Homo sapiens: one gene and its partners. The protein of the gene in region 1 interacts with the protein of each later gene in a pairwise test. Each region holds a gene or a part of one and is shown in the gene's direction. Other genes may lie near its edges.

What was found.
Region 2: the proteins of YWHAG (region 1) and HOXC4 interact in binary tests that used the Homo sapiens proteins (3 or more experiments, as listed by UniProt).
Region 3: the proteins of YWHAG (region 1) and WNK1 interact in binary tests that used the Homo sapiens proteins (3 or more experiments, as listed by UniProt).
Region 4: the proteins of YWHAG (region 1) and ZKSCAN8 interact in binary tests that used the Homo sapiens proteins (3 or more experiments, as listed by UniProt).

The regions. Positions count from the first base shown.
Region 1 is NC_000007.14:76,348,969-76,355,991, reverse strand, and holds part of YWHAG (14-3-3 protein gamma), read left to right. Parts: intron 1-7,023. UniProt on the Homo sapiens protein: Adapter protein implicated in the regulation of a large spectrum of both general and specialized signaling pathways. Binds to a large number of partners, usually by recognition of a phosphoserine or phosphothreonine motif.
Region 2 is NC_000012.12:54,049,297-54,056,537, forward strand, and holds HOXC4 (homeobox protein Hox-C4), read left to right. Parts: upstream 1-4,538; 5' UTR 4,539-4,626; coding exon 4,627-5,065; intron 5,066-5,553; coding exon 5,554-5,909; 3' UTR 5,910-6,734; downstream 6,735-7,241. UniProt on the Homo sapiens protein: Sequence-specific transcription factor which is part of a developmental regulatory system that provides cells with specific positional identities on the anterior-posterior axis.
Region 3 is NC_000012.12:748,254-755,596, forward strand, and holds the start of WNK1 (serine/threonine-protein kinase WNK1), read left to right. Parts: upstream 1-4,325; 5' UTR 4,326-5,312; coding exon 5,313-6,071; intron 6,072-7,343. UniProt on the Homo sapiens protein: Serine/threonine-protein kinase component of the WNK1-SPAK/OSR1 kinase cascade, which acts as a key regulator of blood pressure and regulatory volume increase by promoting ion influx.
Region 4 is NC_000006.12:28,136,998-28,144,900, forward strand, and holds the start of ZKSCAN8 (zinc finger protein with KRAB and SCAN domains 8), read left to right. Parts: upstream 1-4,885; 5' UTR 4,886-5,032; intron 5,033-5,213; exon of another isoform or gene 5,214-5,266; intron 5,267-7,333; exon of another isoform or gene 7,334-7,427; intron 7,428-7,903. UniProt on the Homo sapiens protein: May be involved in transcriptional regulation.

The DNA.
Region 1 (7,023 bases):
ATTTTGAAAAGAAGGAAAGAGGAATGTTAGGTCTTTTAAGACAGATGTTTAGTCTTGTATTGAAGGAGAGTGAACACCTAGATGTATCCTACGTATTAGACAATACTGTCTTGTCCTTTGACTTTTACTAGTCTCTTGAGAAGTTAATATTTTAAATAGGCTACTGGTACTTGCCTTGGGGAGAAAAGGTTCAGGGTTACTAATTTTGTTGAAGTTACTGAGTTAAGCAGTTTAACTCAATGAGGGGTGGGAGGGCAAAGGTGGCAAAAGGCTATCATAATTTTTCTAAATATTCCTAGTGGGATCAATAGACTTTCAAATTCTTTCTATCTTAAATATTCCATTCCCCCTCCCCCCCAGGCTCTTCCAGGAGATCAATAGCTATTATCACTAATGGAGTAATGGTACCTCTGTAGACTCTTCAGAGGTGGAGTTCTGCCAACCATTATTCTAAGTCATGTGGCTTGAATTGTTCTCTTCTTGGGCGTGGAAAGAATACAGATCATACAGCTTGCCTTTCATGTGTTAGCCTTCCCAGTAACTGAAGCAGATATTAAGTGCTTTTTCTGATTATTTTGGAAATCTATGTGTTTTTTGAATTCTACTGAGATTCAACATGGCGCTAAATGTTCATCCTCATTGCAGTCCTGGATTAACTGCAAACCTAAGAGTAGGATTTCATCTCTTGTACTCAGGGAAGCCTTATTTATTAAGCCAATCTTTAAATTATTGAAAAGAGTGGAGAAAACGATGTGTTTTTATCGAGGTAAAAGTTGCGTAACATAACTGTCACATAGTCACATCAGATTTCAAGTGCAATTGAGTGGCATTGGGTACATTCCGTGTTGTGCAGCCATCACCTATGTTGAAGAAGAGAGAAAGTGGTTATTTTTAAAAAGTGATGCCGGTCTGGACTACAGCTGGCTGGAATTCAGCACCTATTCAGGAATGTGTCGATAATGGAGTGCCCACAACAGCTCACAGCCAGCGATAATTGTCTATCCCTTTGTCTTCATTTCCAAGCGTCTGAACTGAAAAAAGGGAATTAGCTTTAGCTACGTTTGTACTGTATTTCCACTTAAAAAGTTATGGAACTTGAACACTGTATAATGTTCACCCAAATAAATAAGAACAATTTACTTGAAATCTGAGCAAATCGTTAACTCTTTGGGGATTATGGAAATTTTGCTGGTGTTCTAGTGACTCGTTTTCAGCCCTAAGGCTGGCTTTATTATCAGTGATTTGCCGCCTGTGTGGTAGTGGTTTCCTAATGAGTAGGATGCAGGGTTGAGACTGGGGAGCTCCTGCAGCATGAGGCTCTTAACTGATGGGACGCCAGCACAAGACATTCAGTACATTGTGGCTGTCAGGAGCTGGATGGGAAAAGTAGTTACTTTTCCCTTCTTTGCCCATTCCCAATATCAGCAGTCCTAACCTTATTTTATTTTATTGTATTTTATTTTAATTTTTTTGAGACGGAGTCTTGCTCTGTCACCCAGGCTGGAGTGCAGTGGGCAGTGGTGTGGTATCTCGGCTCACCGCAACCTCTGCCTCCCAGGTTCAAGTGATTCTCCTGCCTCAGCCTCCCAAGTAGCTGGGATTACAGGCACCCACCACCACGCCCAGTGAATTTTTGTAGTTTTGATAGAGACAGGGTTTCACCATGTTGGCCAGGCTGAGCTCGAACTCCTGACTTCAGGTGATCTGCCCACCTCAGCCTCCCAAAGTGCTGGGATTACAGGCGTGAGCCACCGTGCCCAGCCTCAAGGACCACTTTCTATGCTCGGTAGTCAAAGGGAAATACTACTTTTAAATGATATAAAACGTTATCTTCTCTTTGCCTTCTTTTGAAAGTTACTTAGTGTTTTACCAGATATTCCAGTCTATAATTATGTGTGCGTTTGATTGCTTGTTTTTTGTTTTTTTTTTTTTTGAGGCAAGGTCTCACTCTGTCACCCAGGCTGGAGCATGGCTCACTGCAGCCTCCACCTCACAGGCTAAAGCGACCCTCCAGCCCCAGCCACCCAAGTAGTTGGGACTACAGGAGCATGCTACCACACCTGGCTATTTTTTTGTACCGTTTTTTGTAGGAACGGGGTGTTGCCATGTTGTCCAGGCTGGTCTTGAGCTCCTGGACTCAAGCAGTCTGCCCATCTTGGCCTCCCAAAGTACTGGGATTACAGGTGTGAGCCACCACACCCAGCCCGGTCTATAATTATAATGCAGCTAAATGTTGCCTTTCTACAAAGGCTACCAATACCAGCTGCCTTATGGCCTCTCCTCTCAGAATTATTTTTCTGTATCTTCCCCAAATTCCATTTTAGGTGTCAGCTATCATTTTGATTAACTACCAAAACATATTATTTTACTTAAAATTGTCATTTGTAGAAATCTTGAAAATTTTGATATTTTGCTAAATGAATTTATGAATTTGAGTGGTAGAAAATTAGTTACACGAAAACTGATTTAAAAAATTCCCTGGGTCAGGCACGGTGGCTCACGCCTGTAATCCCAGCACTTTGGGAGGCTGAGGCAGGTGGACCATGAGGTCAGGAGTTGGAGACCAGCCTGACCAACATGGTGAAACTTGTCTCTACTAAAAATACAAAAAATTAGCTGGGCATGGTGGCATGCACCTGTAATCCTAGCTACTTGGGAGGCTGAGGCCGGAGAATTACTTGAACCTGGGAGGTGGAGGTTGCAGGGAGTTGAGATTGCACCACTGCACTCCAGCCTGGGTGACAGAGCAAGACTCCATCTTGAAAAAAAGAAAAAAAATTCCCAAAAGAAAGCTTTAATTTTAAGGTAAATAGTTATAAATAATTGGTTTGCTACCATGATTTTGTAGAAAAAATAAAAATTGTAAATCTTAAAAGACCATGTGCATGAGTCTTTTCTTTCTGTTTAAAGAACTGGTGAAGTCTTAGTTAAATTGCTCCCAGCATTTCACTTGTTAAGTGTGTGTCCTACAGAAATAGACTTTTCTTTACCTGAGTTGAATACTACTAATATGTGCTGCATGGCATTAAGTTTTGGTTATGGGCCGGATGTAGTGGCTCACGCCTGTAATCCCAGCACTTTGGGAGGTCGAGGTGGGTTGATCACTTGAGGTCAGGAGTTCAAGACCAGCCTGCTCAACATGGTGAAATCCCATCTGTACTAAAAATAACAAAAATTAGCTGGGCATGGTGGCGCATGCCTGTAATCCCAGCTACTAGAGAGGCTGAGGTAGGAGAATCACTTGAACCCAAGAGGCAGAGGTTGCAGTGAGCTGAGGTCATACCACTGCACTCCAGCCTGGGTGACAGTGTGAGACTCTGTCTCTAAAAAAAAAAAAAAGTTTTGGTTGTGAATAGGAAAGAGAGTGTTCTTACATAATTTAGATTTTTAACATAACATTAAAACAATAAAATTATTCCAAATAAACTCTTGGGCTTCTTAACCTTTGGAAGGGTACCTGTCTTTGGAGAGAGAAAGCCCATTTTGGTGAGTGGGACCCAGGTACCCAGCTTTCCTCTGAGCAGGGGTGTCCGAGTTGGGAGTATGACAGTGACAGCAGTGGCCAGCTGAACACGTAATGACAGTAGCTGAAGAGGAGTCACTGATCCACCCCCAACCTGCCGCAAGCTGAGTATGAAGAGCAGCTGCCGTGGGCAGGGAAGTGAGGAATGGCTAAGGGAGCGAGGGGAAGGCTTTAAAAAGCCAGGTTTCTTTTGAAGCCGTAGAGATGATTTACATTTCTTGAGCTGTCTGAAAGGAATTACTCATATGACTCTAAAGCTACCATATTTAAAAAACCCAGATCTGGGAAACAAAATGCCTATGGTGCTAGTTCTTTAAGAATGTAGAAATCAGCTTGAATTTTTGACTGTTTCTATACAGACTGCTTTTGTAGCAATCTAACATGAAGCAGTGAGCATGTCTTTGCAGTGGAGGTGCAGCATAGTGAGTAGCCATGCGGATAACCCCATACTCATTGGCAGTATGTTATAATGTGAGGGCCCGCCTGGCCTGGGTAGGCTAAAGAGCAGTGGTCCCCAACCTTTTTGGCACCAGGGACCCGTTTCATGGAAGACAGTTTTTCCATGGACTGGGTGGGGTGAGGGGTAAGGGGATGGTTTGGGGATGAATCAAGCACATTGCATTTATTGTGCACTTTATTATTGCTACATTGTAGTATGTAATGTAATAATTATACAACTCACCGTAATGTAGGATCAGTGGGAGCCCTGAGCTTGTTCTACAATTAGATGGTCCCGTCTGGGGGTGATGGGAGACAGTGACAGATCATCAGGCATTAGATTCTCATAAGGACCATGCAGCCTACATCCCTTTTGTGTGCAGTTCACAGTAGAGTTGGCACTCCTTTGAGAATCTAATGCCACCGCTGATCTGACAGGAGGCGGAGCTCAGGTGGTAATTCGAGCAGTGGGGAGTGACAGACTTCCTGCTCTGCAGCCAGGTTCGTGACAGGCCATGGACCCGTTGGGGACCCCTACTATAGAGAATAGATGTTATTATTTTCAAACCTTCACATTGGGTCTTGTATCTGTGTAATAGAGGTTAAGACTGGAAGTTATTTTTCCTACTAGGTTGAAAAGACCCTACTCAGAAAGGCGAGAAGAATGAACAGGAGAGGAGAATACGAACAACAGAAAAGGGCATTCCAAGGCGAGGAAAGCTAGTGGGGACAAGGGAGTAGGGAAGGAATATTCTAGAATATCTTGGATCTTGGAATGCCATGCCTATTTAAGGGAGTCTGTAGTCTTTGGAAGGCTGTGAACAATGGGATTGACTACTGAAGACAAAAATGTTGGTGGCCTTTCAGGATGCTAGAAATTTCGGGGGGAAATGACAAGAAGAATCACCATAATGATTCACATGCAGGGATATTTCCATCGTGTCTTTTTCTACAGTTTATATTCTTTTGCACCTTGCTTTTTTCACTTGACATCATTTCAATGATATTCTGTCATTATTTTCAGTAGCTGAATAATCCTGTGGATATATCATAATTTAATTATTTTTTTGCTTAGTATTCAGGCTGTTTCCAAATTTACATTGTAAATAATATTGATGTGTGGGTATAGATGGTCCCTGATTTCAGATGGTTTAACTTAACGATTTTTCTTTTCTCTTTTCTTTTTTTTGAGACAGTCTTGCTCTATTGCTCAGGGTGGAGTGCAGTGGCGCGATCTCAGCTTACTACCACCTCTGCCTCCTGAGTTCCAGCGATTCTCCTGCCTCAGCTTCCCAAGTAGCTGGGATTACAGGCATGTACCACCACGCCCGGCTAATTTTTGTATTTTTAGTAGAAATGGGGTTTCCCCATGTTGGCCAGGCTGGTCTCCAACTCCTGGCCTCAGGTGATGTGCCCGCCTTGGCCTCTGGAAGTGCTGGGGTTACAGGCATGAGCCACTGCGCCTGACCTTAACCTGACAATTTTTCAACTTTATGATGGTGCAAAAGCAGTAGGCATTCAGTAAGCTCCTCCACTTAGGATGGTCATGTCCCCATAAATGAGTTGTACATGGAGGAGTATCTGGTATCTTTCAGGCACAATTCGTACGTTAAGACAGACCCAAGAGGGGAATTGCTGGAAAACCAGCTAAGAATAATGTTTAAGGTCCTCACTAGTACAGGACCTTGAAAGTTTTGAAAGATGTGTTTGAATAGGTATTATGTATACATGTTTCAGAATTCAAAAGGCACCCATTGCCCTTTGTCCTCTAGGAAGGAAAATGAGGTTGAAGCAGGGGTAGGCTCGATGCCAGCTTATTTGAGGCAAGGGCCCATCTCCCTTATGCTTCTTTGGAGTGATTGCCTTTTTTTTCCCTTTGACTAATGGAAACTTTCAAACATACAAAATAAAGACAAATAGTACAGTAACCCCCGTACACCCAGCTTCACCATTTTTCAGCACATCGGTCTTTTATCTGTATTTTCTTACTCTTCTGGCCTCCTCGGGGATTATTTACCAATTTGGAAGATGGCTTTTTGGAGACAGTCTTGCTCTGTTGCCCAGGCTGGGGTACAGTGGTGCAATCTCAACTCACTGCAACCTCCCCCTCCTGGATTCAAGCAATTCTCCTACCTCAGCCTCCCCAGTAGCTGGGATTACAGGTGCCCACCACCACGCCTGGCTAATTTTTGCATTTTTAATAGAGACCAGGTTTCACCATGTTAGCCAGGCTGATCTCGAACTCCTGACCTCAAGTGATCCACCTGCAGGCATGTTTTTGTTTTTCATCGTTTGCTGGCCATGTAGAAAAAGACTTCAGATGTTTGGAACTTGATCTATTTATTGAGGAAGGGCAAACAATATGGCACAACTTCAAACAAAGCTATCATTAACAGATTAAATTTTTACAACTTACATAGAATGTATTTCTACCAACATTATTTGGAGCTGTGGCATGTAGATTCTCAAAAACACTTGCTGAGTGAATTACAACTACCTGTTACTTTCATTTTTTGGTACCCTGTTGCATTTTGATCTTGGTTTTCTCTTTTCATCATCTGGCTGTGTGTGTGTGTGTGTGTGTGTCTGTGTGTGTGTGTGTGTGTGTGTGTATTAATAAATGATGACCAAAACGCGTCTGGACCGCAATGGAAAACTTAACGGTACTTTTTGGTATTTTTTTTTTTTTTTTTGAGACAGAGTCTGCTCTGTCGCCCAGGCTGGAGTGCAGTGGCGCGATCTCAGCTCACTGCAAGCTCTGCCTCCCAGATTCACGCCATTCTGCCTCAGCCTCCCGAGTAGCTGGGACTACAGGCGCCCACCACCACGCCCGGCTAACTTTTTGTATTTTTAGTAGAGATGAGGTTTCACCGTGTTAGCCAGGATGGTCTCAATCTTCTGACCTCGTGATCCACCTACCTCGGCCTCCCAAAGTGCTGGGATTACAGGCATGAGCCACCACACCCGGCCGGGAAGACGAGATTTTTTAAATTACACACTTAGATGAAATATTGTAATATAGTTTGACGTTTACTGTCACCTTGGGAAGCATTTTTATGTAC
Region 2 (7,241 bases), on another chromosome or scaffold:
TGGCAGTGAACTATTGGAACAAGTCAAACACCCGAGGTGAAATGCAGGTCACTCTGTCTAACCAATATTAAAATGCGGCCACTTTTTAAAAAGCCACTTTAAACGAGATTTGAGGAAAATTGAATTCCAAGGAAGGCAAGGCAAGGCAAGAGAAATCCATGAGAGGACCTTGCCTAAGGTCTCCAAACAAACAAGAGAAATTCATCTTTAATATTTTAAAGGGGGGCAAATTAACATTCCATGATTGCTTTTTTTTTTTGAGACTATAAGCGATTCCAGGAGAAGAAAAAAGGTTGAGTATTTTCTGGTGACACATCCAGGTTATTAAAATCATTTTAGACCAATTCATTACTTTTACTGACAAGAGATTTAAGAAAAAATCAATTAAGATTTGCATATTCTTTTGCATACATTAGCCCTGGCTGCCGGCATTAGAAAGGGACAAACACATACACACACACACACACACACACACACACACACACACACACACACACACACACGAAAAAAATGGGCTATGAGCCTTGATTTAGTTTTGGGTTTTCAAGTTGCCCAAAGGAAAAAAAAATCAAAGTGAAATGAATTGCCTGATTGCATACCATCTAAAATTCAATTTATATGAGTGAAAGGAAACAGAAATGTTGCAATTTTTAATCCCTAAAACAACAACAACAACAACATTCACACACATAAACCCTGCATTTCAAAGAGTAGGGAAAGGAATGACCCTCATTTTCCTTCCCTTTGCCCTCCAAATCCTGAATTGGTTCACCCATTTATTTTTCTCCCTTGGAAAAATCAGAGAGGGGTACGATTTTAATGCAGCAGAGAATCTATGGAGCCGCTGAGCTCTCTCAGCCGGCAGCTTGTTACTGGGGAGGGGAGGAATATGGGTTATCCAACGGTCAGTATGGTAATCCAGGCACAATAAGGCCTCACACACAATGGACACATATTTTTCTTCAGCGATGTCAGAAGGGAAGCGCTTTGTACTGAAACGTGTTTCCGAAAGAGAAACCAAATCGAGATTTAGAAAGGAGATGGGGTGGAGGGGCAATTGCAGAGAGCATTTGGATGCTGGCAAAAGGTAGTCAGAAAAAATAAAAATAAATAAAACTGGGGCAAAGTGAGGTTGAGGACAGGGCAGAGGTGCAGCCCCTGGGCCAGCAAGGCGGGAGGCAGGAGGGTGAAACACAAAAGAAGACAGGACCAGATACAAGGATTCATCACAGATGAGAGCTGCTTTAGTACCCCCACCCCCTCCCAATTAAGCCATTGCTAAGTGCAAAAGCCCTTCCAACGGATTTTATTTCTGTGCTTGTAATAATATCCAGGTGAAAATGTTTGTGTGTATGTGTGTGGTATTTTACCCATGTGACAGGCGACTTCCTTGCTATTAAGCTATAGGAGCCCAAAGAGAGTTGCTGTTGTTGTTTTGTAAATGATGTAGATGAGTGTGGGCACATTTGGGGGAATCTTGGAGATTTCACTTTCTGGATGTGCATGTTGAATTAGCTGCACGAACCTGGAATGAAAACTCTACATATTTATAGCTGCATAAAGAGGCATTTAATATATTAATAAATATTAATAGTGTGCACGCATATATGTTAACCATAATAACCAAAGACAGACTTGACATTCAGTTGGGGGCATCTGAACCCTCTGTGTCTACTACTTATACTGGCCCAAAGTCAGTCTCCTTGACCCCCCTGCAGAAGCTCAGAAACCTGGCGGGGGTGGGATGTGACAGGCAACATATTGGGGAGGACTCCTTAACAAGTACAGGAGGGTGAAGATTGAAGAAAAGAGGGTTAGCGTCAGGGCACGGATGGTAAAAGGTGAGTGTGAGGGCTGAGAGGATGAGAGTCAGGCTCACAGCTCACCTTTCCAGGTGAGGCAGCCGCATCCAGGTACAGGCCTAGAAGGGAGACTGGGAGTGGGGCCGGGAAGGTTTCCTCCCTCTTCATCAACCCTCTCCACATGGCACCAAAGTTTGCTGAGCTTTGGACTTCCCGGTGGAGCCATCTGGGACTACAGTTCAGACTTAGGTACTAGGATTCAGCACTGGTTTCCCTTTGCCCTCTTCCAGCAATTTATAATGAACCCACCCCCACCACCAATGATTAAGACAACCCCACACAACCCAAACCACTATTAACCAAGCAGTAGCCTTCCTCCGCCCCCTCACTCACAGTCTCAACTTCCTCTCCAACCAAACCAGCCTGTCCTCACATGCAGAGAGTTCCGGACAAGAGTGGGCAAGGGTTCTCAGCCAACTCTGAGAATTTGGGAATCTCCATTAGAGGTGTTCAGCCTCTGGGGAACTCCTGTTCCTTCACCTGGCCTGGTTACAGTGGGGATGGGCACTGTCCTCTTGGAGAGAGAGTATTCAGGGACCACCAAGCACCAGCTCCTTGGGAGCTAAGCCCTGGCCCTGCTGAGCCTGGGGTGGGGCTGGGGGCCTAAGCATTGGAGGAGGGAAGGCAACGAGGGCCCAGGCGGGAATCCGCACCCTTTGGGCACGGCTGTGGGTCCAGCTTCCCTCTCATTCCAGCCCTTTGGGGAAGCCCTAATTTGGAAGTGGGGACCCTCTCCAACATCCCAAAGGTGATGAGAAAAGGATTGGAATCTCTTGCCTTCAGTCTCCCTCTCACAAGGGCTTTATTTTTTTTTTCCCTTTCCCCTCCTCATTCCCTTAATTGCAGATGTTCTAATTAAACCCTCAAATAGTTGTTATGCCGTTTTAAAAGGTACTTATTCAAGTGTCAACCAGGCTGGGCTGGGAGGAGGTAGCGTAGGGCGGCGAATTAAAGGTAGATTGACTAATCACGGCGGCGATCATAATAATAAAATCAGAGGGAAAAAAAATCACATTACGACTTTTCGTGGAAAGGAGGGAGCAGGCAGCCAGCGGCCGCCAGCCCTGCGCCGCCGCCGACACAAAGAGTGCGGGCGATTCCGCGAGACTGATTTATGACGTTTTACAGCCCTATAAAAGCTGTAGCGACGAGGCAAGCGCTCCTACCACCGCTGGCAGATTTAGTCTAATAAATAAAACATAAACAGTTAACTTTATGTGTCACTTTTATTGTTATCAAGTAAAATATAGCTGAGCCCTGGCAAGCTATGATTTTAAACTATAATTGTTATCAAGTACAACAAGGGGACCCGGCTCCCTCCCTGGGCTCTCCCCTCCGCTACCCCCCGCAACTCTGAGTTATGGGCGATCAGTTAATTGGAATCGGTGGCATGACAGGACCACCCCTAGCTGGGGGGGGGGGGTGGTGGTTAGGAAAGCAGCTTTTCCTGGCCCCCTCCCTCCTCTACGGCCCTGTCACCCCCCTCCATCAGAGTATTACTGTGAGTGGGTGGCAGAGAGAGAGCAGGGGGTGTGAATGGGCTGGAGACCCCAAAGGCTGGCCGTGCCTCCCCAACTTGGTGAGCTTAGCCTTCCGTTTTTGGAAAGCAGCCTGGAGCTGGCCTTTAGGAATTCGTGTTTACATGTAAACACACGTGTTACATGGATACAGCTCCTAGCCAGAAGCAAGCAGGCTCTACCCACACAGGCCTCCCTCTTAGCTAGGTCTGCCCTCTGTGGGGACAGAGAAAGAACTCTCAGGATCTTGGCTGGGCACCATCACAGGGCACTGACTCCTGGCAGAAAGCTCTCCTCCTTGCCCCAGCTCCTTGGAGATAATTGTCAGAAAATAGCAGGCCGGGCTGAATGGGGAGTGGAAACAGAAGCCAGCAGTAGAAGAGATCCTCTGCTCTGGGGCTGGGGCAGGGAGGGTCAGTGGGTAGCAGGGGAAGGCGAGACTTCTGAACTCTGCTTTTGCCAACCACTTCCTGTCTCTCTTCAGCGGGGGCTCAACCCCCAGACCTCCAGAAATGACGTCAGAATCATTTGCATCCCGCTGCCTCTACCTGCCTGGTCCAGCTGGGACCCTGCCTCGCCGGCCGCATGGCCAGAGGGTTGGGTGAGTGTGTATGGGGAAGAGGGGCTGGACTCTGGTATCCTTGGATGGGGGGCACTCCAGGCTCTCCAGCCTCCTCGGCTCAGCCTGGGCCCCTCCCCATCCAACATCCACTCCAGTCCTCATTCAACTTCCTCTTCCTGCGAAAGAGGGGCGCTGCCCCGTGACCTACACAGACTGAGACACGATCGCCATGAATGGAGACCTCTGGAAAAGCTCAGGAGCCGAGGCCCACGGGGCCCAGCAGAGGCCTGAGGGGAGACCCTGGGCGGGGGCTGAATCACTGCCTCCCGACAGTCCCCCAATGCCCGGGCTTTGGAGGGGAGCCGGGAGCTTCCCATCTCCTTTTGCAGGGGAGGGTTGTCAGTCTGGCGGGATGTGCACTGGGGGCACTCCAACCTCTGCTAGCTAACCCCACATCACCACCCACCCCCGCCTCCCAGCACCACCACCACCACACACACAAAAAAATTGGATACATTTTGAATAAAGCGATTCGGTTCCTTATCCGGGGACTGGGTTGCTCCGTGTGATTGGCCGGAGGAGTCACATGGTGAAAGTAACTTTACAGGGTCGCTAGCTAGTAGGAGGGCTTTATGGAGCAGAAAAACGACAAAGCGAGAAAAATTATTTTCCACTCCAGAAATTAATGATCATGAGCTCGTATTTGATGGACTCTAACTACATCGATCCGAAATTTCCTCCATGCGAAGAATATTCGCAAAATAGCTACATCCCTGAACACAGTCCGGAATATTACGGCCGGACCAGGGAATCGGGATTCCAGCATCACCACCAGGAGCTGTACCCACCACCGCCTCCGCGCCCTAGCTACCCTGAGCGCCAGTATAGCTGCACCAGTCTCCAGGGGCCCGGCAATTCGCGAGGCCACGGGCCGGCCCAGGCGGGCCACCACCACCCCGAGAAATCACAGTCGCTCTGCGAGCCGGCGCCTCTCTCAGGCGCCTCCGCCTCCCCGTCCCCAGCCCCGCCAGCCTGCAGCCAGCCAGCCCCCGACCATCCCTCCAGCGCCGCCAGCAAGCAACCCATAGTCTACCCATGGATGAAAAAAATTCACGTTAGCACGGGTAGGCAACTTTGCTTTTTGCTCCCCCCCTCCCTCCCTTCTTCCCTAGCGCTCCCCACCCTCCTCGGCCCCCTCTGGCCCCCGTCCTCCTTTCTCTCCTTCCCCCTCTCTCTCCAGGAGCGACTCTGGGTTAGCACAATTGAACTGGATTTACGAGCGAGAATGGGTAATTACATCCCCCATAAATTTTATGGCTTAGCTACTCTGGGCAGTCCGAGCCATGTGCTACGATCTGTTATGTATGTGTGAAAACTATGCTCGCTTTCTAAGGGCGCATAAATAATTCAGTGTCGTTACAATGAGGATTCCCCTCTTATTACACTACAAAGTCTTCAGCTTCCTTCAACTTCTTTATAACCCATTTAAGCTTGATGACTTTATTTCCACCACTCCCTCCTCCTGTTTCTCAGAGCTGAGGATGGGGTGAGGGTGGGGGGCGGGGAGCCTGCTGCCTCTGAACCCCACTATTTGCTTTTCCCCTCCCCCCAGTGAACCCCAATTATAACGGAGGGGAACCCAAGCGCTCGAGGACAGCCTATACCCGGCAGCAAGTCCTGGAATTAGAGAAAGAGTTTCATTACAACCGCTACCTGACCCGAAGGAGAAGGATCGAGATCGCCCACTCGCTGTGCCTCTCTGAGAGGCAGATCAAAATCTGGTTCCAAAACCGTCGCATGAAATGGAAGAAGGACCACCGACTCCCCAACACCAAAGTCAGGTCAGCACCCCCGGCCGGCGCTGCGCCCAGCACCCTTTCGGCAGCTACCCCGGGTACTTCTGAAGACCACTCCCAGAGCGCCACGCCGCCGGAGCAGCAACGGGCAGAGGACATTACCAGGTTATAAAACATAACTCACACCCCTGCCCCCACCCCATGCCCCCACCCTCCCCTCACACACAAATTGACTCTTATTTATAGAATTTAATATATATATATATATATATATATATAGGTTCTTTTCTCTCTTCCTCTCACCTTGTCCCTTGTCAGTTCCAAACAGACAAAACAGATAAACAAACAAGCCCCCTGCCCTCCTCTCCCTCCCACTGTTAAGGACCCTTTTAAGCATGTGATGTTGTCTTAGCATGGTACCTGCTGGGTGTTTTTTTTTAAAAGGCCATTTTGGGGGGTTATTTATTTTTTAAGAAAAAAAGCTGCAAAAATTATATATTGCAAGGTGTGATGGTCTGGCTTGGGTGAATTTCAGGGGAAATGAGGAAAAGAAAAAAGGAAAGAAATTTTAAAGCCAATTCTCATCCTTCTCCTCCTCCTCCTTCCCCCCCTCTTTCCTTAGGCCTTTTGCATTGAAAATGCACCAGGGGAGGTTAGTGAGGGGGAAGTCATTTTAAGGAGAACAAAGCTATGAAGTTCTTTTGTATTATTGTTGGGGGGGGGTGTGGGAGGAGAGGGGGCGAAGACAGCAGACAAAGCTAAATGCATCTGGAGAGCCTCTCAGAGCTGTTCAGTTTGAGGAGCCAAAAGAAAATCAAAATGAACTTTCAGTTCAGAGAGGCAGTCTATAGGTAGAATCTCTCCCCACCCCTATCGTGGTTATTGTGTTTTTGGACTGAATTTACTTGATTATTGTAAAACTTGCAATAAAGAATTTTAGTGTCGATGTGAAATGCCCCGTGATCAATAATAAACCAGTGGATGTGAATTAGTTTTACGTCAATGTCTGATGGTTTCTTTTTATTCCCCTCCCTCTCTGGCCTGGTAACATCCCATCTTCTCTATAGTTGCCTAAGTTTACTTTAAACAAACACACAAATCTTAGCTCTCCATTAGTCTTCCAATGTCCTTAGAAGAACAAGCAAGGGGGTTGGGGTATGGGATCTTCAGAAGAGGGGATGTGGAAGATTAAGGCTGATTTCTCCAGTCCCCTTCCTTCCCCCTGAGTCTGCAGAGAGACCAGACTCCTCTGGGGGCACTTCAGTGGAGCTGAGGGTGGGGAGTGTCTCACTTTTCTATAGTTAGGTACAGTTTCTTCTTTTTGTCTTTTCTCTCTCTTCCCTTCTCCCTCCTCTGTGCTGAGTAGGCCTGCCTACTTTGTAGACAAGGGGGCAAGTTTAGGGAGTGGGAAGGAGAATAGTTTTCTTTCATCTTTTAGGGCTCTTTTGGGATGAGGGATTAAGGAAGACATCCCCTCAACATTTGAGTTCTTAAAAGAAGGAAG
Region 3 (7,343 bases), on another chromosome or scaffold:
GGTGGTTCACGCCTGCAATCCTAGCACGTTGGGAGGCTGAAATAGGAGAACTGCTTAAGTCCAGGGAGTTCAGACCAGCCAAGGTAACATAGTGAGACTTCATCTCTACAAAAAATTTAAAAATTAGCTGGACATGGTGGTGCACACCTGTGGTCCCAGCTACTCGGCAGGCTTGAGCCTAGAAGTATGAGGCTACAGTGAGCTGTGATTGCACCACTGCACTCCAGCCTGGACAACAGAATGAGACTCTGTCTCAAAAAAAGATAATTTTTCAATTTTATGAGAGAAAATATTATATTTTAATCTGCATTTTGCTAGTTACTGAGTTTCAGCATCTTTTTCATGTCTATTTTTGTTATTTGCATTTACTGCTTTATTTTATTTTATTTTTTTTTCTGAGACACAGTCTCGCTTTGTTGCCCAGGCTGCAGTGCAATGGTTCAATCTCGGCTCACTGCAACTTCCACCTCCTGAGTTGAAGCGATTCTCGTGCCTCAGCCTCCCGGGTAGCTGGGACTATAGGCGCGCACCACCATGCCCGGCTAATTTTTGTATTTTTAGTAAAGACGGGGTTTCACCATGTTGGCCAGGCTGGTCTCGAGCTCCTGACCTCAAGTGATCCTCCCACTTAGGCTCCCAAAGTGCTGGGATTACAGGTGTAAGCCACCATGGCATTTACTGCTTTGTAAATTATCTTTTCATATCCTCCTTTTCTATACAGTGGTTTGCCTTTTTCTCAGTGATTTAAGAGGGTTTTTTTCCCCCCATATCTTTTGGATATTAATCTTTTGTTATACAGTCTCCAGAGTTTTTCTGGCAGTTTGTCACTTGTGTTTTGTTGAATAGATTATCAATTTTGATATTGTCAAATATTTTCCTTTGTGGCTCTTGGATTGCTCTTTGAAGCCCTTTAGTACCCTATGTTCTCCTACATTTAAAAAATTATTTAGAGATATTTTTTAAAAGTTTGGTTCTTCAATTTATGTGGAAATTAATTTTGTGAACAGTCTGAAGTAAACACTGACCTCATTTATTTTTCAAATGAATAACTAATTGTCCAAGCACTGTTTATTATTTTGCCCTACTGACTTCAAATGCCATTTTCTATATGAAATTCCCATACATACATGAGACTGTTTCTGTACTCTCTCTTCTGTTCCATTGCCTATGCTTATCTCAATACCATATAGATTTAATTTTATGGTTTTATAATATACTTTGATATAGGGAAAATCCCACCCCCTTTATTTCATTTATAATATAAAGTTCTTAAAAAACTATTCTTCATTGTTTATCTGCCTGATTCTCACTTCCTACTTCCAGATGACAGGGTTCCAGACGACAAAGAGGTAAAATAAAAATTACCCATAGGCAAGACAAAGGAGCATGGGAAAATGAGGGAAAGGAGACAAAAAAAAAAAAAGAGAAATGCTCTTAAGGTGGGACAATTTTTCCCCTACACTTCAAGAAGCAACTTTATGTATCAATATTTTGCCACATTCAAAGTAAGGTAGATTTTGTGTGTTTAGGATATTTCAGCCACTGTCTAAATCAAAGGTGTCTCTGACTTTCATTGCTAGCTAGTTACCAATGGCAGAAACCATGTAAACAAAAAAATGTGAATGGAAGGGAATAGAAAGAAACATGAATCAATCAATGTGAGAACATGAACAAGAACTAGAGAGAATAGAGACATGGTGAGACAGAATAACATACTTGTATTCTTCTTGTGGAACCAAATGTAAGGAAGTCAAACCTCTGAGCTTAGTGCATTCATTGTATCCTGGGTTCTTTGTTATCTCTGTTTACAGTCACTTGATGTTTTATATGGAACATAGAGAGGTTGATTCTTTACTGGATAATTGAAGTGACAGAGAAAGGAAAAGTACTATTAGGAATTATAGTAATGAGTAACAGAAAATACCATTTACTTGGAGGTAGGTTGGTAAGCATTAAAAAGAACTGAGTGAGCTGGGATCAAGCCACTGTACTGCAGCCTGGGCGACAGAGTGAGCCTCTCTCAAAACAAAACAAAACAAAACAAAAACTGAGCAAAAAAGTGTTTGTTAGTAAAATACGCACACTAAATAATATAACCTTTAAATCTAATCATTGTACATAATAAGATTATATTCAACTTAAAATTGTATCTGTTTTCATTGTAAAGCTAATATTACACAAGTGGGAAAAGCTGTCTCCTAGGCAAGTGTGGTTTTAAGTCAACAGTTAATTAAATTACTTACAATGAATTTAGTTGTTCCTGGTTGAAAAGACATGTTGATAGGGCATGGTGATTATCAAGGGACTTGTGTCCAATGCAGTGTGGCCAAAGTTTCAGGGCTCAGTAAACAGGAACAGGCAATAATAAAATCCTTTAACAACCACTCACACAAAAATATCCTAATTTTTTCATGGTGCCAAAAGGGAACATTGTGATTTACTGATCTTCTTTTAACTTGCCAATTTGTAATTAGCTGCCTTATGTTTAAAATCAGACTATTTTTCCTAGTGAAGCAACAATTGGGTAAGTTTTATTTTACTCAAAAGTACAATAAAAATGTATTTTACAGCCATTTCTTCCCTTGCTTACATTAGGTTTACGGTTAGAAAAACACTCTTAATTCCATTTGCCATAATGAGATTATTTACCATTACCAATAGCAAACGAATGAAAGATACATTTTCTAAAGCAATGGAACACTAATATTTTAGTACTCTAGTTGTCCCTGCTGAATCGGCATTTTAAAATGTTCGTAACCTGTCAGCTTCATGAAACCTAACGATCATTGGTTTAAAACATTTTTGTAAACTTGAAAGTGTAGCTTGTGATAAACAACAAAAAAAGAAAGAAAAGAAAAATAGGGTTAAGTATTTTACGTATCAGATGAATTAACATGAACTGCAGGGCAAGACTTCTGTAGGTGGAGCTCATCCGATAACTGTGCTAAGGAACCTCCTGCCGAGTTCCTTGCTAGCTGCTCGCTCGCAGCGTGGTCCTCGGCCCCGACGCGCGCTTTCGAGCTTGTTCCGCAGCGGGCGCTGAAGAGAGGCGGCCGCGTCCGGACGCTCTGATGCGGTTGCGTACGTTTTCAGCGCTTCCCGCTCTCCACCGGTTGGACTGAGGCTTTTAAACTGCAGTCTGCTCCCGAGTCCGGCTTCCTACTCGGTCTGGTGCCCCCTGGTGCTCGTCCCCTCCACATCTTGAGTAGTTGCGAAGAGCACAGGGGTCCAGGCAGACAAGGATGCTTTCAAGAAAAACATTCCATGGCGGCAAGCCGCATGGATCCACATTTCCCGGGCCCAGAGCCTTTGTAGACATTGCATGTGGACATTCAGGAGCTCTAGAGAAAGAGGGGGTGTTGTTTCACGAAGCCACCAGCAGAAGAAAGGTGGAAAATAAGTTTCAACCAACTACAAAGGCAGAAGTCAGCCCAGCCCCCCAAGTGTGGTCAAAGACCCATAGATCCGTAGACCTTATCTTTTCTTGAATCCACCGCTCCCCCAACCCCCCTTTTATTATTTTTCAGACAAAGCAAAGATAGAGTTCACTAGGATCCCCGATTTCAGTAAGGCAGCCCTTTTTTGAGAGCCAGAATATCCGTCTCGGCCGGGAGCTGAGAATGTGGCCTTAATTGATGAGGGGAGGAGGATGGAAGGTAATCCTCCGTGTCTCCTCCTCCAATCCGTTTAATCAATATTAATTTCATGCACAATCTTCACAAAGTTTCTTTTCCCCTCCTCCGACTCAGAGCTCAGGCTCCGGTTATCCTGCTTTGCCCTTCCCTTCCACCCTCACAGCCCTGCAGTCACTCAACACTACTGAGGCTCTCTCCATTAAAGATGAACAACAGATCATTTTTCATTGCATGGCAACCCTAAGAGCTCTCTAGCTTAGCAGAGCATGATGGGAGTCTTTCCATCCCCCCCCCCACCCCCCGCCCGCTCGTTCCTCTTCTTTTTTTTTTTTTTTTCCTTCCTTTCCTTCTTCCACAATTAATCCCTAAATAATGATTTTCCTAAGCTCGCGCGGACTTCGGGATGGGGTTGAGCGACCCGTGATGACGCTCCCATCAGCCTTTCAGAAGGGACGGTTTCCAAAGAAAACTACAACTCCCACGAGGCATTAGGCTACAGCAACCGCAAGGCATCACGGAAGTCGTAGGCACTTTTCTTCTAGGTCCCGTTCATCCCCGCCAACCCGTAAACTATAAGTCCCAGGGTGCCTCGGGGCTAGCACGCCTGCGCAAAAGCCCCGGAGCGAGTTGGGGGGTGGGGCTGCTCCGGGCGGCGGGGGGCGGGATCCGAGCGGGCTGTGTGGAGGCTTCAGACTCCCGGCGCCATTTAGCGCGGAGAGTTTCCCGGGTGGACGCGGCTCCTCTCTCGGCCACTCCGCACCCCCATCTTCGGTGACAGAAGGCGCCTGGTGGGGGTGGCTGCTCTTTTCTCTCCCTGTTCCCCCTCACCCAGTCCTCTAGGTCTCCTCTCCTCTTGCCTCAGAGAAGCAGCGGAGCTCGGGCCCCGCGGTGAGCGGCCCTCCCCTCCCCGCCGTTCCCTCCTCCGTCAGCCCCCGGCACCGGCCCGGGAGGAGACGGGTTTGCCAGGCCTGGGGCGGGCGGGGAGGCCTCGGGGAAGGGGGGGCCCGCTCCTCAGGCGCCGAGGCTCCGAGGCTCCGGCCCTTCGCCTCTGGGCGATGGGCGACCTGTGAGGCCGGTCCCCATCGCTGGGGGCGCGTGTGGGAGGAGGCGGCCGCCCGAGTGACCGGGAGCCGGGCCGCGGCCTTCCCTCGCCCGCCTCGGCCCCTCCCACTCCTCTGCCCCGGGGCCGCCACCGCCCGGGCGTCGGACCTGGTCCCGTGCTCGCGGTGCCGCCGCCCTCTGGGCCTAGCCCGCCCAGCTCGGCGAGCGGCGGCAGTGGGAGCCGCGTCCGCCGCATCCGCCTCGACTCGGTGCCGGCCCCTGGCCCTCCCCTCATGACTGCGGCGCCTCTGCTGCCACCGCCCGCCCGGCCGCCGCTCGCCGCAGGATGGATGCGGACCGTGCGGCGCTAACCCCCGTGGCTCAGCTCCCGAATCGCCCGCCTTCGAGCCCTCCTCGTGAGCCGCAGCAGCCTCGGTGCCAGCCCCCGCCGCAGCTGGGCCCAGCGGTCCGCCTGTCCCTCGTTGCGGCTTGTCGGTGCTGAGTGAGGCGTCGTCCGGGTCGGCGCGAACCCGCCCGGCCGCGGTTCCCTGCAGACCTCTGCGCGGGCGGCTCGGCCCTTCACGCCCTTTTCGTTCACGAATCCGAGCCCGCTCGCCTCTCTCCAGCGAACCGACCATGTCTGGCGGCGCCGCAGAGAAGCAGAGCAGCACTCCCGGTTCCCTGTTCCTCTCGCCGCCGGCTCCTGCCCCCAAGAATGGCTCCAGCTCCGATTCCTCCGTGGGGGAGAAACTGGGAGCCGCGGCCGCCGACGCTGTGACCGGCAGGACCGAGGAGTACAGGCGCCGCCGCCACACTATGGACAAGGACAGCCGTGGGGCGGCCGCGACCACTACCACCACTGAGCACCGCTTCTTCCGCCGGAGCGTCATCTGTGACTCCAATGCCACTGCACTGGAGCTTCCCGGCCTTCCTCTTTCCCTGCCCCAGCCCAGCATCCCCGCGGCTGTCCCGCAGAGTGCTCCACCGGAGCCCCACCGGGAAGAGACCGTGACCGCCACCGCCACTTCCCAGGTAGCCCAGCAGCCTCCAGCCGCTGCCGCCCCTGGGGAACAGGCCGTCGCGGGCCCTGCCCCCTCGACTGTCCCCAGCAGTACCAGCAAAGACCGCCCAGTGTCCCAGCCTAGCCTTGTGGGGAGCAAAGAGGAGCCGCCGCCGGCGAGAAGTGGCAGCGGCGGCGGCAGCGCCAAGGAGCCACAGGAGGAACGGAGCCAGCAGCAGGATGATATCGAAGAGCTGGAGACCAAGGCCGTGGGAATGTCTAACGATGGCCGCTTTCTCAAGTTTGACATCGAAATCGGCAGAGGCTCCTTTAAGACGGTCTACAAAGGTCTGGACACTGAAACCACCGTGGAAGTCGCCTGGTGTGAACTGCAGGTAAAGCCCCACCTACTTTATTTGACGGTCCTTTGGATCCCAAATTTGGCTCGGCGAAGCCAGTTGATCGAGTTCACCCTTCACTTGGCATTCTCTGTTGGACTCCGAGTGGGACGGGGAGGCCAACTTTTGAAAGGGGCTGAAATTAGGAGAATGTGGAGCATGTGCCTAGGTGTTGGGATAGGATAAGAATTATTGGTAGCCAGAGGGATTTGCTACCGGGCAGCGGTGGTGAAGGTCATCTTAGTACAAACGAATTGTCTCCTGGTTTAGAGTCTGGCAGGAAACTTGGAATGAGTGGGGAAGTTGAAAGTACAGATGCTTCTTCTTCTGTGCATTTCAATCTCATCAAAGGCTCTGCAGTGATGAGCTGCGTCTGGGTGTAGAAGCGTGTTTTCATTCCTGAGATCAGGCTGTTCTTTTTAAATGAGAACAACCTTGTACCTTTGGATGTATTTTGCTTGATGGTTGCACAGGCATTTAGTATAAAATAATTATTAAAAAAAGACTCTTCTCTGCCCCTTTTGGATGTTTGATGTTGTTCTACCTAATGATGCTTAAGCCTTACAGTAGCAGCATTGCTCTGACGTTCATTAAACTAATGTCTTTCAGCCCATTCACTATACAGCGAATAGTATAGGAGCCCATGCAAAATTGTGTAAGTGCTTTGAGAGTCGTAATGTCATCATCATTGTTTTAATCTTATAAAATATCTTTAAGCTGAACTTTCCCAAGAGTCCGAAGGAGTCGCAGCACTTCCTTTTTTAACCTCTAGTGGTGTAAATAATGGTGTGTCATTCCGGTTGACTAGTACATTCTAGGTTTAAACAGCTGAGTTTGGGCTACTTGTTGCTTGACTTACTGAAGCAGCTTGCTTAAATATTGCCCTGATTGGGCATAGGTGAACATAGGTTATTAGTAGGAGCAGGTTTATGCTGAAGGAAGTCAGCCACATTATGCATGCATAAAAATTGCCATTATTGATATAGTAATCTTGCCAAGAATATAGACCAGCCTGATACAGGATATGAAAATAACTGAATGATCTTGGAACTTATTTTATCCATGAACTAATATGTTAACACGTAACCCTTTGAATGTCAGGTTCCAAATAACTAAGGCCATATCAAATGTGAAATTAACACAGCATGTGGAAGTAAACTTAAAAACTAAGAAGTTCTTTACAAACATAATCATTTCTTAACTTTTACAGTTAATGATGTAGAACTTCTAAGGTAGTGTGAAATTAAAACTACTCATTAATTTTATAGT
Region 4 (7,903 bases), on another chromosome or scaffold:
TTTGAACGAGGCTCGGCGCAGCCGGGCCCTTTTCGCAAAGTAGGCCCACTGCAGACCTGTGGGAACCTCCGGGATGCCTGGGGACCCGCATCTGCCGCTACCCGCAATTTCCTATCCCGACCCTCTCTGCAGTTGTCGACCCCGGCCGGCGGCTTTGAGCGTGGGGTCCCGCAGACCCTGGCACCTAGGGGGCCGAAGCCGAGGGATCTTGGGGTAGAAGAGCGGTCCTACAGAGCTGCCGCTTCGAAAGAGCCCCCAATCGACCGCTGATGGGGAATGGAGGATTTTGCTGTTTTATTGCAGCCCGCCCCCGGAGAAAGGCGGGCTCGGACGTTCTTGACTTTAGGATAGACTGGGGAGGGGTGCCGAGGAGCGTTCTTCCCTTTACGTCTCGCGGTCGCAGACTGTATTTGCTGGTGCCCTGCTCACTGTGATCTCGCAGGACCTTGCGGACTTACGGAGACGAAAAGTGGCCTACTTTGAGCTTCTCTGATCCTTAGGGGAAATGAGTGTCCAAAGAGAAATAGGTGCAGAGTGCCGGCACTAGAATTCTTTAAACCTGGATTCAAATTCTGACTCCACCACTCTCCAGTTAGGACTGAGGGCAATTTATTTTTAACTTCTCCAAGCCTCTGTTTACTCGTTTATGTAACTCAGGCTAATAACGTAGTGTCTATTTCATAGGGTGGCTTTGACTATTAAGTGTGAGAGTGCATGTAAGAACAGTCTAAGGGAATTTCCCTGCCTTTCCCCTTGTCTGCTGTCACTCTCATCCGTGTTAGACAAATGGAATTAATTAACCAACTTCCGCTTTTCTGAAGCACGGGTAAAGAGTGAAGTGCAGGACTTGGGTAAAGGAAAAACCAAGAAGGATGCAAAAGATGGATGGTCATTGTGAGATCCACAGAGGTGCTCATCCCAGCACTTTCACCTCACTTGGCATCTGTCACATGGTGGGTGCTTGATAAGTACATGGGTGAATGAGGACCTACCTAAGCAGAAGGAATTATTGAATAAGACTAGAATTGCAGGGAGAGGATGAATCAGATTGATTAGCTACTTGACAAAAAAAGGCAAACCACTCTTCCTGTCAGAAATGTATGGCACATCTGCATATTTCAAGGGCTGCCACTTACTGCAACTGGGAAGGAGATCTCAGAACCGACACCTCAACTATGGAAGCTTTAATCTATTGACAGCAAATGCAACATAGCAAGTAATATAAGACAGAATGTGATCAGTGCAAAATCGAATAATAAAGTCTTGAGAGGGGGTTATTAGAATAATAGACGAGTGTTTAGATTGAGTAGTGAGCAATGAGATAAGTCCTTTGACTTGGGGGTACAGGGGAATTATGACCAGGGGTATGGGATAGGGAGAAGGTCATTCTGGAAGGCAATAAAAGGCAGACAGGACGCTAGTGGTAGAAAAAAAGGAAAACACTTGTTTATCAATGTAAATCAATGGCGGAAGAATTACATATGACATATGCTATTGAGGAATACCTTTCAACCGTTCAAATGACAAAAGGAGTGTCAGAACAATATATATTCCATTTTTGTTGAAAAAATTTGTTTATATAGATATAATTTGTGGGGTATTTGTACAAGAAAAGGATGCACTCCAAACTTAACAGTGATTACCCCATATTGAAAATTGTGAAACTTTTACCCTACTTGCAAGCTAACAATTTAACTTGCCACAGTTTTATGGATACTAACAGAAGACACTGGACTCCTGCGTCAGAGACAGAAGACTTTATTACTTAATAACACAGGCATCATAAGCTTTATATTCCCTTGTTCCCAAAGCTTATGTTCCCAAAGCCCACAGAGGGGCCTAAGCTTGGCATTCCCCTGCTAGGATGGAACAGTGGGTTTGCAACCTAGCAGAGGAATGCCAAGCTTAGGAAGCCCAACCTTTGCTCAGCCTTGCCCCAGAATGAGCCATTATCTTTATTATCCTGGTCAGGAAACAACTGTGATCTAGAAGGAGATACAAACATCCTTGAAAACCTAACCTCAAAGAAAAATCTACCATAAGACTAGGAGTAATTTGAGAAGCCATTAAAGAATTATCTCCCAACATTCTAGGTAAATACTATTTGAGGGTGGAGATGTCAGCTTTTAAGAATTTTATATAATATTAATCTTTATCATGTTTCATTTATTTTTAAAAATACAAAAAATAAAAGGCAAGCATAGAAGTTTAAATTTTACTTAGAGATAAGGAACCACTCAGGGTCAGTGATTGGAAGAATGATAATGATATTTAAGGACCACGTCTTGTATAGTTAGGAAGGCTATCTCAAGGCTGTTGCAGTCACATAGGTGTGAAGTAATTAGAACTGAGGATGGTGGTTATATTAATGGAGAAAAGTAACACTTCAAAGGAGAAATCTGGCTCTGATAATTTCTCCTTTATCTCCATGTTTCATTGAGTAAACTAAGGAAGCCTCTCAAGCCTGAATAACTTAGAAATTGGCGATATTATCAACCATTCTAACGGATATGTGGTGGTAACTCATTGAGGTTTTAACTTTGCATTTCCCTGATGAATAATGGTTACTTTTTAGTGTGCATACTGGCCATTCTTTTATCTTTTGTAAAGAAAGTGTTTAAATCTTTTGCCTATTGGTGTTGAATTATCTTATTCATTAAATTGTGAGAGTTCTTTATATATTCTGGATAGTTCTTTGTCAGATAGATGTATTACAAATATTTTTCAGTGTGTAGCTTTTTCTTCACTTTCTTAATGGTGCTTTTTTTGAGAAGATTTAAATTTTGATGAGAATTTAAGTTTAAAATTTTGAAGTCAAATTTATCAGTTTTATCTATTACAATCAGTGTCTGTGTGTCCAGTTTGAGAAAACTACCTATGGCATGACGCTATTTTACTTCCTATGTGTACACAACTTTGTACATAGTATGTGCAGTCATAGTTGTGTGCACATTGAATTTGTACAACTACATATGTGCACAACTTCAGACTTAAAAAAAATTTATTTGTTTATTTATGTTGAGACAGGGTCTTGCTCTATTGCCCAGGCTGGAGTGCAATGGCAGGATCTCAGCTCACTGCAGCTTCTGCCTCCCAGGCTCATGCGATTCTCCCGCCTCAGCCTCTGGAGTAGCTGGGACTACAGGAGCCCACTACCATGCCTGGCTAATTTTTGTATTTTTTGCAGAGATGGGTTTTTGCCATGTTGGCCAGGCTGGTCTCAAACTCCTGAGCTCAGGTGATCCTCCCGCGGCTTCACAAAGTGCTGGGATTACAGGCATGAGCCACCGCGCTCAGCCAAAAAAGTTACTTTTAAAATGTGAAAAAAGAAACTGAAAGTAGAGTTCTAGTCTGTCACCAGTTACTTCCAGTTACCATCCCAGGTGGAAAGCAACAGCTGTGAAATAAAAAGCAAAAATAATTACTTTGAAGGAGTCCAGAAGCACTGTAGCTTCCCAGTGTTTACTATTATTTACTTGTTTTCATGTGATAATTAGATGACAAAACCCTTAAATCAAAACGACTTTGTCAGTACGCAAAATATTGGGGAGTTAGTAATTGGGAAGGGATAGAAATGTTGGTGGTGGCTACCAGCAGGAGCAGATAAAGAGGGAAATTAAGGTGAAAATTGGAGGAGCCCTGAGAACTCAATAATAGGTGGTTGGGAAAGGTGCTGAAGGAAATAAATACATGAGACTTAAACAACAAAAAATAACACTTGCCACAACCTCCACCCCTGAAATCCTATTAGTCTCAAAAGTTAAAAAGCTCTAATGCAACAGGTCTGTAAAGAATGAACACAGGGCCAGGGTGGTGTCTCATGCCTGTAATCCGAGGACTTTGGGAGACTGAGGCAGGAGGATCACTTGAGCCCAGGAGTTCAAGACCAGCCTGGGCAACATAGTGAGACCCCCGCCCCGCCCCGCCACCCCGTTTCTACAAATTTTCTTTTTTAAGCTGAGGGTGGTGCACACCTGTAGTCCCAGCTACTTGGGGGGCTAAGGTGGGAAGACTGCTTGAGCCCAGAAGGTTGAGTCTGCCGTGAGCTATGATCACACCACTACACTCTGCAATAGAGACCCTGTCTCAAAAAAAAAAAAAAAAGGCAAAAAAAGAAAAAAAGACTAACAAAGAAAGAATGAACATAGATTTGTTCCCCATATCTTGTGGTATTAAACCTAGGGTCTACTCTTCAAGCTTACATCATAGGTTTAGCATTAAAACAGCTAAGCAGCAAAGCAGATGCTGTAAGCGATAGAAATTCATTAAGATAGGAAAGAGTGGGAAATATGTAAAGATCCAAAAAGAATATATATTTAATTACGATTTTTTTGAATACTTAATAAAATATGCTATTCCTAAGTGCCATGCCATAGGGATTTCACAAAACTATGAACTGTGATTAGCAGGAATTCCTCATGAAGTTTGTACTCTATGTGAGAGGTCTGGATATGTTTATGAATCGAGAACAGTAAAGTACAGGGTATGTAACGGAGCCAAACGCGAATCCAGTTGGAATCCTAAGGATCCATGAAGTGCTCCCTCCTCCAACACTTTCCCAGCCTCCTATTCACAGCTCCAGCCTCCCCACGTCCGATATCTACCCCCAGGGGACCGTTACTATTGACAGCGAGCGCGCGGAGCTGCATGGGCACACAAGGCGGAGGGGACACCAAGGTCCGTTATTCCCCAGCACGTTCACTGCCCCAGCGACAGCGCAAGCCTGAGGCACGCAGACGCGGGAGGAACCCGAGGCACAGCACACAGCAGGTGAGGGGCGTGGTACTCCGGTACCCTCAGTCGGCCGACCATAGAGCTTGTAGACCTCCAGGACTCCTAGAGAGCTTCCGGAAGTGCCTTTGGGGCAAGATGCGTGCTGGCCGGTGTTGTGCCTCCGCAGATTTAGAAGTTAGTGGCCGGAGGGGCCTGGTCCGAGTACAGCTTTCATCGCCTTTACTCCCCGACCTTCCTTCGAGTCTGTTTATCCGTTGCAGCCTCCCTTCCCCACGACGGGGCGCCTCTGCAACTCACAGTGAGTACGGTCGGGCTCTGGGCCGGAGGAAAGTGGGTGCTTTGTGGCTGGTCCAGGCCGCAGCTGAGGACTGGCCTGAGGGGTCCGGAGAGGGGCCTGTGCGGTGTTCGGCGCCGCGGACCGATTCTGACGCCTTAGTTGCTGTTGCAGGCAGAGTACGTCCCCACGAATTGCCCTTGAACTTTTTGCGAGGGAACCTTTTATGAAGCTTTCTTCATAGATAATCGTGTTGTGGTATGTTTTTGTAGTCGATCTTGTTTATCTTAAAATGGGGAACGCCCCCCCCATGTTATTTTTTATCCAACTATTTCCAGAGTCTGAATTGTTTTCACTTAGCGCTCTTTTGCGTTTAGGTCACAACAAAATTCTCAGTTTTTAAAAAAGACATATTTTGCTTTTGGAAGCCCCGTTTATCCATGGAAACCAATTTTTGCTGTTACTCTTCTTTCTTTAGTGTATTCAGAAACTGGTGGTGTGTTGACTAGATAATTGTACGAAAGTTTTTTTTTTTTTTTAATTTCAGGGTAATTCAGAATTCAACATTATCAGAATGCCTATTTCATTTGTTAAAGCAAACTGAAGTTAGCCAACGAGGAACTCTGGGAGGGCCCCATTTCCAAAACTCTGGTTAGTCATGAGTAATTTTTGTCAGGCTACTTTGACTGCCACCACCACCTTTAAAAACATATTTCTGTTGTTTGTTAGTTCCGTTGAGTATATTTACGTAGCAATCATTGTTTTAGCAAATACATACATGTTTTGAATTTCTGTTGTTTAAATGTAAAATGTGATAGATGTTAATTAAAACTTTCAGCTAATGCAATTTGAGATAACAAAGCATAGTATTGGCTTCACCTACTTTTTCTTGGATTTTAAATCCTGGAAAATGTCTTTTTTGTTTTGTTTTCAGTTCCCAAACATTTCTCAAATTAGACATAGTCTGAAGGAAGAATACATTCCTTCCACAACTATTGAAAAAATAATACTGTTAAAATTGAGTTGTGCCTTCAGCATCTCACAGGATTACAGTATTTAAAATCCAGAGGAAGCTTTAAAGATTGCCTTTTAAACTCATGTAAACTTGACTAGGTGTTCTTTAAGGAGACTATGTAAAAATCAGTCTGTATCCACAAAGTGCTCACCAACTTAATACAGACATGTACGCACAAAACTGAGAGGAAGGTACATACTGGAGTAATTTTGCACTCAGTTATTTATAGGTTGTAATTCTCAAAAACCAGCTGATCAGAGAGGGAAGAGACTTAAAAAAATGGAAAATTAGCCACTAAATAGAATAATCAAGATGAGCAATGGGCAAGACCTGTTGGCTGATTTGGTATAAAAAATGAACAAACCTGATAATTAGCTGGTTTTCATCAGTGTTGTTATTGAGACTTTTTAATACCACATCAACAATATAAAGTTCTTGAATGCTGCGCACTTCACATTAAAATATTTTATAGCCTCCTGTACTGGTAAGTAGTGGGATTGCACCTGTGAATAGACTCTGCACTCAAGCCTGAGCAACATAGTGAGACCCTGTCCCTAAATAATAATAATAATATTTTATAGCCATTATGGATGAGGATTGCTCAGTAATAGATGGCCAGTTGTTCAGTAGTTAAAAATGAACCTTGGCTTTAAGGAAATTTATAAGAAAACATGGTAAGACTACCACTATATAACATCACATTCTAAACAGAATTTATGTCCCATGTATTGACCTTTAAGTTTTTAACATTAAACCATAAGTAGCTATTTTAAGAAAATTTAAGAGTTTGTTTTGATTTGAAAAATTAAATTATTTTAAAATTAGCTAAGACCATTTTAAAATAAATTATCTTAAAATTATAGATAATTTATTCAAACAAAAACAAATTGTCAAAACCAAATTGATTACCCTTTCTCAACAAAATCTCAGCATCTTCCTCAAATTCACTCTTCCCCCAAATCTCACTATTCTAGCAAATTCCTCCACTTTCCTGTAAAGTCATAATCAATGAACTATACCCCCAATGTTAATTGATATATTTAACCATATCTTTTGCTCCTTGGTTCTTCTGATCTGTAGTTTACTCTCCACCCTGTTGTTCCCGGCCTTGTCTAACTTGAAAAATAATTTTCAAATTCCCTTTCTTTTCTGTACACACTCTCTATGTAGGATTTGTTTGTATGTTTGTTTGTTTTTAACCTTCCTGGCATTCTTGGATGGCCTTTGAGTCTGTGAACTCTGCCGAAATTGAGTATACAATTTTGTATCTGTGGACATTTTGCTGGAAAGAAGTTCTGTGTTTTCTTTAGGTTGAAGAGTCTATAAACCAACCCCCCTCGCCCCGTGCCACAACTCCAAAAACTGAAAAGATAAGCACTGCCTTGATGATCCGTATGGGGAACTGTATGTACAGTAATCTGATTTTTTTCCTAAGTACCTATCTCTTCTTTGTGGACTATAGGTCTCTGGTTTTATCTTGATGTTAGCATCTCATGACAACTGGTTTAGGGTATGCTACCTTTACTTACACTCTTCTTCATTCTCTACAGTATCTTTGAAATACAAAGATAATGGTCACCTCTGTCAACAAACATTTGCAATAAGGCCATGGCCACATTCTCACAATGTGATAAGTCCTATATTTGGACCATGTTAAAAATGCTTTGGTAGGAATGACAAATGGCAGGGGGATGACAGAGAAGAACTCATGAAAAAGGTAATAGATAAATTAGAGTTAAGAGTTGAATGATTTTAGGCCGGGCACAGTGGCTTACGCCTGTAATCCCAGCACTTTGGGAGGCCGAGGCGGGCAGATCACGAGGTCAGGAGATCGAGACCATCCTGGCTAACACAGTGAAACCCCATCTCTACTAAAAATA